Regions from separate parts of the Homo sapiens genome. Here region 2 is linked to region 1. The links come from fine-mapping of genetic effects on gene expression. A gene starts in region 1. The other region holds a variant in brackets. All regions are shown on one strand. Distances are from middle to middle. Region 1 holds the start of TBC1D20 (TBC1 domain family member 20). Region 2 overlaps CSNK2A1 (casein kinase 2 alpha 1).

The links. PIP is the estimated chance that this variant, and not a neighbour inherited with it, causes the effect. A credible set is the group of variants that fine-mapping cannot tell apart.
Region 2: its variant is the best candidate, but not a certain one, in a credible set for the expression of TBC1D20 in whole blood (INTERVAL, PIP 0.65).

What each region holds. Positions count from the first base shown.
Region 1 is chr20:459,251-464,636 of GRCh38, reverse strand. TBC1D20 (TBC1 domain family member 20) reads left to right here and starts at 2,104. Exons shown (of 8, transcript NM_144628.4): 1 at 2,104-2,301. The coding sequence starts at 2,232. RefSeq lists silencers at 1,665-1,734, 2,015-2,504, 2,573-2,721.
Region 2 is chr20:517,420-522,805 of GRCh38, reverse strand. The region is part of intron 2 of CSNK2A1 (casein kinase 2 alpha 1); the gene reads left to right. Among named protein-coding and RNA genes, the nearest start is that of CSNK2A1, 24 kb to the left of the region's middle. The variant G/T (reference allele first, on the strand shown) is at 3,138.

The DNA.
Region 1 (5,386 bases):
GGCCCAAGCTTCACAACGACCACACAACTGTTTAGTCCTAGAGTTGTGGTGGTGGGAATGGGGTGGGGGTCACTGTTCCATCACTACCAAAAGCAAGAATCCAGCTGGCTGGATGACCAGCGCAGTAAACTGAGAAGGGAATAAATATCTCAAATTGCTTGAGCACGTTACTCTTAAACTGGGATGACTTAAATCTTCCTTCAGTGGGCACTAAGCATCTTTTAACCTCAATGATGATTTATTTCATTTTATTTATTTATTTTTTGAGATGGAGTCTCACTCCGTCTCTTAGGCTGGAGTGCAGTGGCGCAATCTTGGCTCACTGCAACCTCTGCCTCCCAGGTTCAAGCAATTCTCCTGCCTCAGCCTCCCAAGTAGCTGGGATTACAGGCAGGCACCACCATGCCCAGCTAATTTTTGTATTTTTAGTAGAGATGGGGTTTCACCATGTTGGTGAGGCTGGTCTTGAACTCCTGACCTCAAGTGATCTGCAGCCCTTCACCTCCCAAAGTGCTGGGATTACAGGCATGAGCCTCACAGATGATTTAGAACAAAGACTAGAAATGTTTTCAAACTTCTAGTATTAATAATTTTGCATTAAGGCATCTGTGTAAATGTGATACTTTAAATTCCTATAATGTTCAAGATAATTTCAAGAGCTTGGCACTGTGATTCACGCCTGTAATCCCAGAGCTTTGGGAGGCGAAGGCAGTTTGAGACCGGCCTGGGCAACATAGGGAGATTCCCCACCCCCTCTATAAAAACTAAAAAAACTAGCCAGGCATGGTAGTGTGTACCTACAGTCTCAGCTACTCGGGAGGCTGCAACAGGAGGCTAGCTTGAGCCCAGGAGCTTGAGGCTGCAGTGAGCTATGATCGCTATTGCACTCCAGTCTGGGTGATAGAGTGAGACTCTGTCTCAAAAAAAAAAAAAAGATAATTTTGAGAATTCTAACAGATTATTCTTGTACTAATTACAAATATGTATTTGAATAGATTTAGACTTTTGATTTTAAGATGAAATCTCGTTTGTATTGACACATTTGAAAGCACTCATGACTCAGTATTCTTATAAATGTATTACATTTACAAGAATTACACAAGGACTTGAAAGGCTTTGTTAGAAACCTGTGATACTTAGAAAAACGAATTGAATTTATAAATGCAGTTTCAAATGTTCAAAGGATTTTAATTAGCTTAGTTTATTAATGGGACCAAATAACTGATATAATTTACTAGATTTATGAATAGAACTGTAAAACTTGGCTGTGCGCGGTGGCTCACGCCTGTAATCCCAGCACTTTGAGAGGCTGAGGCGGGCGGATCACGAGGTCAGGAGTTTCATGGGCTGGAGGTCTCAGGATAATAAAGAACTGTTGTGGTTGGGGGTGGGAGGTGGAAGAGAGTCATCAAGCAACTGGAATTATGGGAACTTCAGCATGAAGACCTAGCACTAGAAATTCGGGAGGCCACAATCACAATATCAGGGATATAACCAAGGGAATGGATGTCTAATTGGAAAGAAAGGAATATCACTGAAGACGAGAAGGAAATCAGACCTGATAAGCCAGAGCGCTGCTTTAGATGAGTGGCCACTATTTCGCACAACTTAAGGGGGCACGGTTCACGTGAACGTCTACGTAAATGGCGCTCCCAGGCCTTGTGCAGTGCATAACCTGCGGACCCGTATGACATGAACCTGCTAGATCCCCAAGTACCCAAGAACTGATGACAGGAGTTCGTGTGGGGAGACGAGACAGGAGGTAAAAAAATAATCCTTGGTAAGCAAAAATTGGTCATAATTGTGGAGTATTTACTATATGCTTGGTGATGTTCTAAACACTCTCAATAACCTTGTGAGTTCAATATTTTTATTATCATCAATACTATTTTACAGATGAAAGAAGCAAAGGAAACGACAGCTGGTCTCGAGCACACTCGCTCAAGAGCGCCACACTCTACACCGTAGAGTCTACAGCGCAGACGAAGCCAACTCCTCAGAGCGCTCACCGCGCTCTTTCCGCAGCCTCCCCCGCCGCCGGCCGGGCGTAGCGCAGGGTCACGTGCCGGCGCGGGGCGGGGCCAGCGGGGCGCCTGCGCGCCTGCGCGCCGCTGGCCGACGGAGGGGAGCCTGCCGATGCCGAGCGGGTGCTACGTCCCGCGGTCGGAGCCGCGTCTTCTCCCGGCTCCGCCACCAGCCGGGGCTCGGGTGGGGGCCCGGGGCCCCGGGGCATGGCCCTCCGGAGTGCGCAGGGCGACGGCCCCACCTCCGGCCACTGGGACGGCGGCGCGGAGAAGGCAGGTACGGAAGCCGACCGGGGCGCCGGGAGCGGCCTGCGAGGGCGGCCCGGGGGGCAGGGGCAGCTGGCGGAGGCGGCGCCGGAGGGGCGCGGGCTGGGGACCCGGGGCTGCTGCGGGGTTCCGGGCGGCGAGAGGAACAGGCTGAGGGCCCAGGGCACGTCTGATGAGGAGAGGGCCTGGAACTGGGGGGGCTCGGGCGGGTGCCGAGCTGACCCGAGGGAGCCTGGCGGCAGAGTCGCGTCCCCAGGCAGAAGAGCGGGCGGCGGCTTCGCGCCCCGGCTTTCTTCCATCTGGAGAGGACTGGGACTCCTCGAGCGCGGAGGCCAGGCCCACCCCGTCCCAGGCGTCCGCCACGTCCGCAGGCTCCCGGAGCCGCCTCCCCGAGGGGTATCAGCTCTCCCGAACTGCATTCACCGTCGCCGGCTTGATTGACGCGCTGCCCGCGTACCGCCGATGTAATTACCACACAGTTCTTCCTTTAAGGTGCACAGTTCAGTGATTCTTAGAAAATTCACAAAGTTGTGCAGCCATCGCCGCTGTCTGATTCCAAAACGAAACCCTTACCCATTAATAGGCACTCCGCGTTCCCCGGTATTCACGACGCCTGGCAACCACGAATCGACTTTCTGTCTGTCTTCTGCCACCTATTTTAATGTTATTCAATTGTGTAAAAGCGGCCGGGCACCATGGCTCGCGCCTGTAATCCCAGCGCTTTGGGAGGCCATGGTTGGAGGATCGATTGAGGCCAGGATTTCGAGATCAGGCTGGGAAACACAGCGAGGCCTCATCTCTACAAAAAGTTTTTAAAAGTTAGTCGGGTGTGGAGGCTCGAGCCTGTGATCCCAACGACTCTGGAGGCTGAGGCAGGAGGATCGCTTGAGCCCAGGACTTAGAGGCTACTCTATGATTGCGCCACTGCACTCCGGCCTGGGTGACAGATGGAGACCCTATCTCAATAATAATAATAAGTAAATAATTGTATAAAAAGCGCTTCTATTTTTATACTCTTTTAGTTTGGACAATTTCTGTGAAATCATGTTTTTGTTGCACATGATGTTCTCAAATGTTTTTCATTCAATAAATACATGACAGTTAAAATTATGAATGTACACCGTGAACCAAGTTAAATAATCTTTTTTCCTTGAGGAAGACTAAGGTGACTTTCCCTATTTCCAGTCCTCTGATGGATGGTGCCCGTAACAGAGCCAAACACGTTATTAATACAACCCACATATTTTGAGGAAGCTCCTGGTATCTATATTTTATTTTATATTTTATTTGGGCTCATTTTCTGTTTTTCCCTTTTTCTTATGTTCTGATACTGAATGGAAGTGGAGCTCTGAACCCTTTGGCACCGTAACCCTTTAATTACTGGTGTTTGTGTGATGTCTGTCCTCATGGCATAACAGTCAATGCCCTAGGCAGCATGGGTCTTGTGACCTGTTGGCAGTGCAGCTGTGTATCTGTTGCAAGACTTTACCCCCTCTAGTTTCCTTGATTTTGCTTCTCTGGATGAATGGGACAAATTTAAAGATGAGGTTTTTTGTTTTTGTTATTGTTTTGTTTTTTAATCATATCAGAGTATTGTTGGCAAAGTTACTAATGCTAGAATCCCTCTTTTGTAGCGTTTATAGTCAGATTGGTTTACTTACTAGACTGTTTTTTTCCATTGTAGTGAAACATTCTTTCTTGGTACCTGCTTTTTCCAGGTAGTTAACAGAATCTTTGCTAATTTGGATACTGTTTTGTAGAAACTACTAATGAAGACCTCCAGAAACAGAGGCTAGTTTGTTTTATTTTGTGTTTAATAGAACTCTTACCCAGACTGAAATAAGGTTTTCCTCTCCTGCTGTGGTCTTCTGGTACAGACGTGGAGTTAAAGCATTTTTTTTTTTTTTTTTTGAGAGATGGGATCTTGCCCTGTCACCCGGGTTGGAGTGCAGTGTCACAGTCAAAGCTCACTGTCATCTCCCAACTCCTGGACTTAAGTGCTCCTCCCACCTCAGCCTCCTGAGTAGCTGGGACTACAGGCATAAATTTTCAAGTTAATTTCCAATGTCAATATCAGTAGTTGTGGGTGGGTGTAGGGGTATGTCTGTCTCCCTCCCTCCACACAAAACGGCCCCCCCCTTCCATTGTTTTAAGACTAGCATTTCTTAATTTGAGCTTAATTTCAGTTTAAAGACTGTAAAGCCTTTATGATAATGCAGGCTTAAACCAAATAATCAGTATGGAATTTTGTACGCTCACACGAGATTCCATTATATAAATTAGTTGATCCAAGTTAGTATTTGTTTTGGTGATATGAAAAAATATATGAAAAAACTTTTAGAGGAGGCATGGATAGTGGTCATCTTTAGTTGTTATCGTCCCTTCCCAGTGTATTAAGTGCCCTAATCCAGGTGATTTTGGACATGCCTATTACTCTGAGGGGGCAGAAATCTTTACCTGGATTCTGTAGCCAGAGTTGGGAGAAGTTTAAGCCAATAGTGGGTTGTGTCATCTTTATCTGAACCATTAAGAACCACAGTTCAGATGAAGTGTCCCATTGTTAAAATTAGCATTTTAGGGAGTTGAGTCTGATCTCCCTCCCTGACTACAAAACCCTGTTGCAGTTGTTGCTATACCTATTGCTGTGGTGCCCCTCAAATAAAGTCTGCTTTGCCCTCTTTATAAATAAATAAATAAATAAATAAAAATAAGCGTTCTAATGAAGAGTAGGCCAAAGTCATACCTATCTTCCTTTGTTGAATGAATTACTTTTCAGGCATCAGGGATTTATTTATAGCAGTCTTATATTTTGCAGCCAGCTGTAGGACGGTCATTCGTTCCATCATGGTTATGATAGCCAAGACCTCTACTATAAAGGAATTTGGAAGGTATCAGCTTTGGAATAATAGTGCACTATCTTGTAAGTGGGGCAATAAAGAAATTGGAGAAGAAAGGATTGAGGGAGATTAGAATGACATACATTCTACCTCTAGATGAAATGTGGGCTTTTATTCCAAGCCAGATACAGCGTTCTCAAGTCCAGAAATGTGTGTCCTGCTCTAAATCTATAAAGTTTATCTCGAAATACAATAGAT
Region 2 (5,386 bases), 58 kb before region 1:
TGAGCCCAGGAGTTTGAGGCTGCTGTGAACTGGGAGAGCTAGGATCACACCATTGCACTCCAGCCTGGGTGACAAAGTGAGACCCCATCTCTAAAAATAAATAAATAAATAAAATAATTAAGAAATTAACATCGGTATAATACTATTAACTAAACTACAGGCTTTGTTTGGATTTTACCAGTTGTATCCTTTTTCTGTTCAAGGAGCCAGTCCAGGATACCACATTAATTTAGTCATCATGTCTCCTTAGTATCCTCCAGTCTGTGAAGCTTCTTAGTCTGTCTTTAATTTTCATTACTTGGAAACTTTTGAAGAAGACTGGTGATGTATGTTATAGAATGTCCTTCAATACAGGTTTGATGTTTTCTCAAGATTAAATTGTGGTTATGGATTTTTGAGAAGACTACCACAGAGGTGAAGTGCCCTTCTCATCACATTATATCAGGGGCATATGATGTCAAAGTGACTTAACACTAGTGATATTTCAGTAAAGTCTGCCAGGTTTTTCTACTGTAGAGTTGCTATTTCTCCCTTTCCAAGCCCATTGGACTTAGGAATACCCTTGTAATGAATAAGCATGGAAAGGGAGAAATTTAGGCTCTCTTTCCATGCTTACTTATTTCCTTTCCTTAAAGGAGAAAAATTGAGCTCCACCTCCTAGATTCCTCACATGTGCAGTTCACAATAGGGTTCTCCTATGAGAATCTAATGCTGTTGCTGATGGGACAGGAGGCAGAGCTCGGGCAGTAATGCGAGTGACTCCCGCTGCTCACCTCCTGCTGTGTAGCCTGGTTCCTAACAGGCCATGAACTGGTACAGGCCCATGGCCCGGGGATTGGGGACCCCTGATATAAATGGAAGTATACAATATGTAGGCTTTTGTTTCTGGCTTCTTCACTTTTAAGATTCACCATGTTGGTCAGGTGTAGCAGCTCACACCTGTAATCCTAGCACTTTGGGAGACTGAAGCCAAAGGATTACTTGAGGCTAGACGTTTGAGACCAGCCTGGGCAACAAAGCGAGACCCTGTCTCTACCAAAAAAAGAAAAACGATTCATCCATTTTGTTGCACAAATCAGTAATTTGTTCCTTTTTATTGCTAAGCATCACATGGCAAACCATTTGTTTGTTCATGTAACTGTTGGACACCTTGGTTGTTTCTGTTTTTTCACAATTATGAATAAAGCTGCCTTAAATGTTTGTGTATAAGTTTTTGTGTAGATACGGGTTTCCGTTTCTCTTGAGTAAATACCTAGGAGTGGGAATGCTGGTTGTATGCTTAAGTACATGTTTAACTCTATAAGAAACTGCCAAACTGTTTTCCAAAACCATTTTGCATTCCTACCAGGAATGTATTAGTTACTGTTACTCTGCATCCACACCAGCTTTTGGTATAGTTTTGTTTTCTGTTTTTTTAAATTTTAGCCATTTTAATAAATCTGTAGTGGTAGTTGTATGATTTAATTTCATTTTCCCTGCTGTCTGGCAGTGTTGTGTATCTTTTCATATACTTATGTGTATATCTTCTTTTGTGGTGTGTATGTTCACGTCTTTTGCCCATTTTTAAATTGAGCTGTTTTCTTATTGAGTTTTTTAATGTTACAGATACAAGTTCTTTATTCGATTTGTGATTTGCAAATACATTCTTCTTGTGTCTGGCTTATTTTCTTAATAGTGTCTTTCACAGAGCAGAAATATTTTAACGTTGATGAAGTTCAGTTTATCAGTTTTACAGCCCATGCTTTTAGTGTCATGTCTTCAAACTCTGCCTAACCCCTGGTTGCAAGAAGGTTTGATAATTTTACATTTATATCTTTTTTTTTCCCCCCCAGAGGTAGAGTCTTGCCTTGTCACCCAGCCTGGGATTATACAGTCATGAGCCACCGCATCTGACCCAAGTTTTACATTGATATCTGTGATTCATTATGAATTATCTTTATATAAAGTGTGAGATTTAGATTAAAGTTTATGATTTTGCATATTGATCTCCAAGTCTTCCAAAACAATTTATAGAAAAGATTATTATGCCTGTAATCCCAGCACTTTGGGAGGCCAAGGCAGGTGGATCAGTTGAGCTCAGAAATTTGAGACCAGCCTAGGCAATATGGTGAAACCCTGTCTCTACTAAAAATACAAAAATTAGCAGGGCATAGTGACACACTCCTGTGGTCCTAGCTACTTTGGAGGCTGAGGCAGGAGAATCACTTGAACCCAGGAGGCGGAGGTTGCAGTGAGTTGAGATCATGCCCCTGCACTCCAGCGTGGGCACCAGAGGCAGACCCTATCTCGAAAAAAATACATAATATATTTATATATATATGTATATATGTCCTTTCTCCATTGAACTGCCTTTGTACCTTTGTCAAAAATTAATTGGCCTTGTTTGTGTGAGTGTATTTCTGTACTCTTTATTCTGTTCCCTTGATCTATGTATTATCCTTTTGCCAATACACTGTTTTGACAACTATAGCTTTGTAATAAGTTTAAGATCAGTTAGTATAATTCTTCCAGCTTTATTATTTTTCAGAATTGTTTGGATTATTCTGGTTCATTTGGATTTCTTTTTTAATCCAGTCTGATATGATAGTCTTTGTCTTTTACCTGGATAATTTATTCCACTTATATTTAATATAATTAATCATATTCCAATTCAACTTTCTTCCCCTATGCTTCTTATGTTCTAGATTTTTTTCTTCTCCCTTCTTAACATTCTTTTGGATTCTTTTTATGATTTTACTTTTCCCTCTTTCTGGTTTGGAAATATATGCTATTTTTATTCTGTAATTAGTTGTCATACATCTTGTGACTTGCAGCTATAACTTAGCAAAACCTGATATTATAATTTTATCTTCTTTTCATATAATAAAAGACCTTTAGAAAGAATACTTTGAAATCTCCTCAATACACTGTGTTTTTATTGTTATGTATTCTATGTTTTAAAGCTCCTCAAGGTATTGTTATTCTTTTGTATAATCAGTGTTTGTTTGGAGCTGTCTGTAAATTTTCCTCTTTTTTGCTCTTTATTTTTTCTTTCAACTCAGACCTTCCAAAATGGGATTATTTTTCTTTTTTCTTTAGAGACATTTGCTTGATAACAGAATTTTAATTTGGCGGCTATTTATTTTTTTCAGCACACT[G/T]CAGGTATTAAACTACTTGGCTTCATTGTTGGTTTTGAAAAATCAGCTGTTCTAATGTTGCTCTTTGAATATAATCTGCCTTTTTCTGTACTTGCTTGTCTTTAGTTTTTTGTTTTTGTTTGAGACAAGGTCTTGCTGTTTTGCCCAGGCTGGCCTCCAACTCCTGGGCACAAGCAATCTTCCTGTATCAGCCTCCCAAATAGCTGGGACTATAGGCCTGTGCCATTACACCCAACTCATCTTTGTTTTTTCCTGCTATTTTGTAATTATATGTTTGGTTTTGGATTTCTTTTTATTGATCTTGTTTGGAAATTGTTTGCTTCTGGAATTTGATTGTGTCTGATTGCTTCTGGGATATTTTCAACTGTCTTCAGTTACTGCCTTTATCCCATTCTCTTTTCTGCTAGTACCAATTAAAAGTATATCAAACTGGCTGGGCACGGTGGCTTACGCCTATAATCACAGCACTTTGGGAGGCCAAGATGGGCGGGTCACTTGAGGTCAGAAGTTCAAGACCAGCCTGGCCAAAACATGGCAAAACCCCCTCACTACTAAAAATACAAAAATTAGCCGGGCATGGTGGCATGCACCTGTAGTCCCAGCTACTCTGGAGGCTGAGGCAGGAGAATCACTTGAACCTGGGAGGCAGAGGTTGCAATGAACTGAGATCGTGCCACTGCACTCTAACCTGGGTGGCAGAACAAGACTTTGTGGCAAAAAAAAAAAAAAAAAAAAGTATATCCAACGATTTCACTATATTTTTCCTCTTGTTTTTTGAGATCTGCTAGGACATTGTATTTAAAAATAAATAATTGGCTGGGTGCGGTGGCTCACACCTGTAATCCCAGCACTTTGGGAGGCCAAGGCGGGTGGATCACGAGGTCAGGAGATCGAGACCGTCCTGGCTAACACGGTGAAACCCCGTCTTTACTTAAAAAAAAAAAAAAAAAAAAAATTAGCCGGGCGTGGTGGCGGACTCCTGTAGTCCCAGCTACTCGGGAGGCTGAGGCAGGAGAATGGCGTGAACCCAGGAAGCAGAGCTTGCAGTGAGCTGAGATCAGGCCACTGTACTCCAGCCTGGGTGACAGAGCGAGACTCTGTCTCAAAAAAATAAAAAATAATAAAAATAAAAATAGATATTTGTAGTGATCATTTGAGGCCCACAGTAAGGTACTTTCCTCCATGGAGAGCTTGCTTATATCAGGTATGCATGGGCACTAATCCAGAGACCACCTTAAAACAAGCTTAAGATATGATATTCCCTTCAGTAGGGCTTTAATTCCTCCCTGGATCTTCCACTCCCTAGTCACTCTCACCATTAGGAAGTATGCCTCTGAAGTCCCACCTTATGAAGAGGGCCTCCTATTAGACTTTTTGTCTTGTGAGAGCCCTGGGCTTTGGTTTATGTGAGAACAAAATTCTAATTTTCAGGATCAACAAAGGCTTTCCAGGCTTCCTTGCTTGCTTATATCTCTGGGTTTGCATTTTCTATTCCCTTTTGGCTATAATTACTTCTCTGTCTTATTTAAAGATGAGTGGGCCAGGTGTGGTGACACATGCCTGTAGCCTCAGTTACTTGGGAGGCTGAGGTGGGAGGATTACTTGAGCCCAGGAATTTGAAGTGGCAGTGAGCTACGATTGTGCCACTGCACTCCAGCTTGGGCAACAAGGAACTGATTAGTGTTGGAAGTAGAGAAAAGAAAATAAAGAGAAAGAATTCCAAAGCTTGTGAATTAATGATACTGTTTGTTTTAAGCACAAAATGGTAACAGTCGAGTAAACTAATAGTCTCCAAATCAGATATAAAAAGGTTGCTGACCTGATGTGCAAAAAAAGCACATCAGGTGCTTTTTTACACCTGATGCCACGTTGCATGTGGCATCCAATGATGTGTTTCTTATAGAAGATAACAAAATGTGCCAGCCTTTGGTCATTTTAGGGTGCAAAATTATAGGTCTTTAAAATTCTTAACTTGCTTTAAAGTGTTACGCTTTGCAATTTCTTGTTTTAATGTTTTCCATCTGAATAATTCCTGTGCGTACTTTAAGTGCAGTTTTTTTTTTCTCTTACAGTTTTTCCCCATTTTAGGTACTCCATAAATATTTGTTGAATGAATGATGGGTTGGTGATAGTTTAAATACCCTTCAACGTCTGTACACCACCATGACTTAATTGTTTCAAGCACTGATCACTTGAGATTGTAATGGTCTGTTTTCTTTGTCTGAGGGCAGAGATACTTTCTCCAGGAC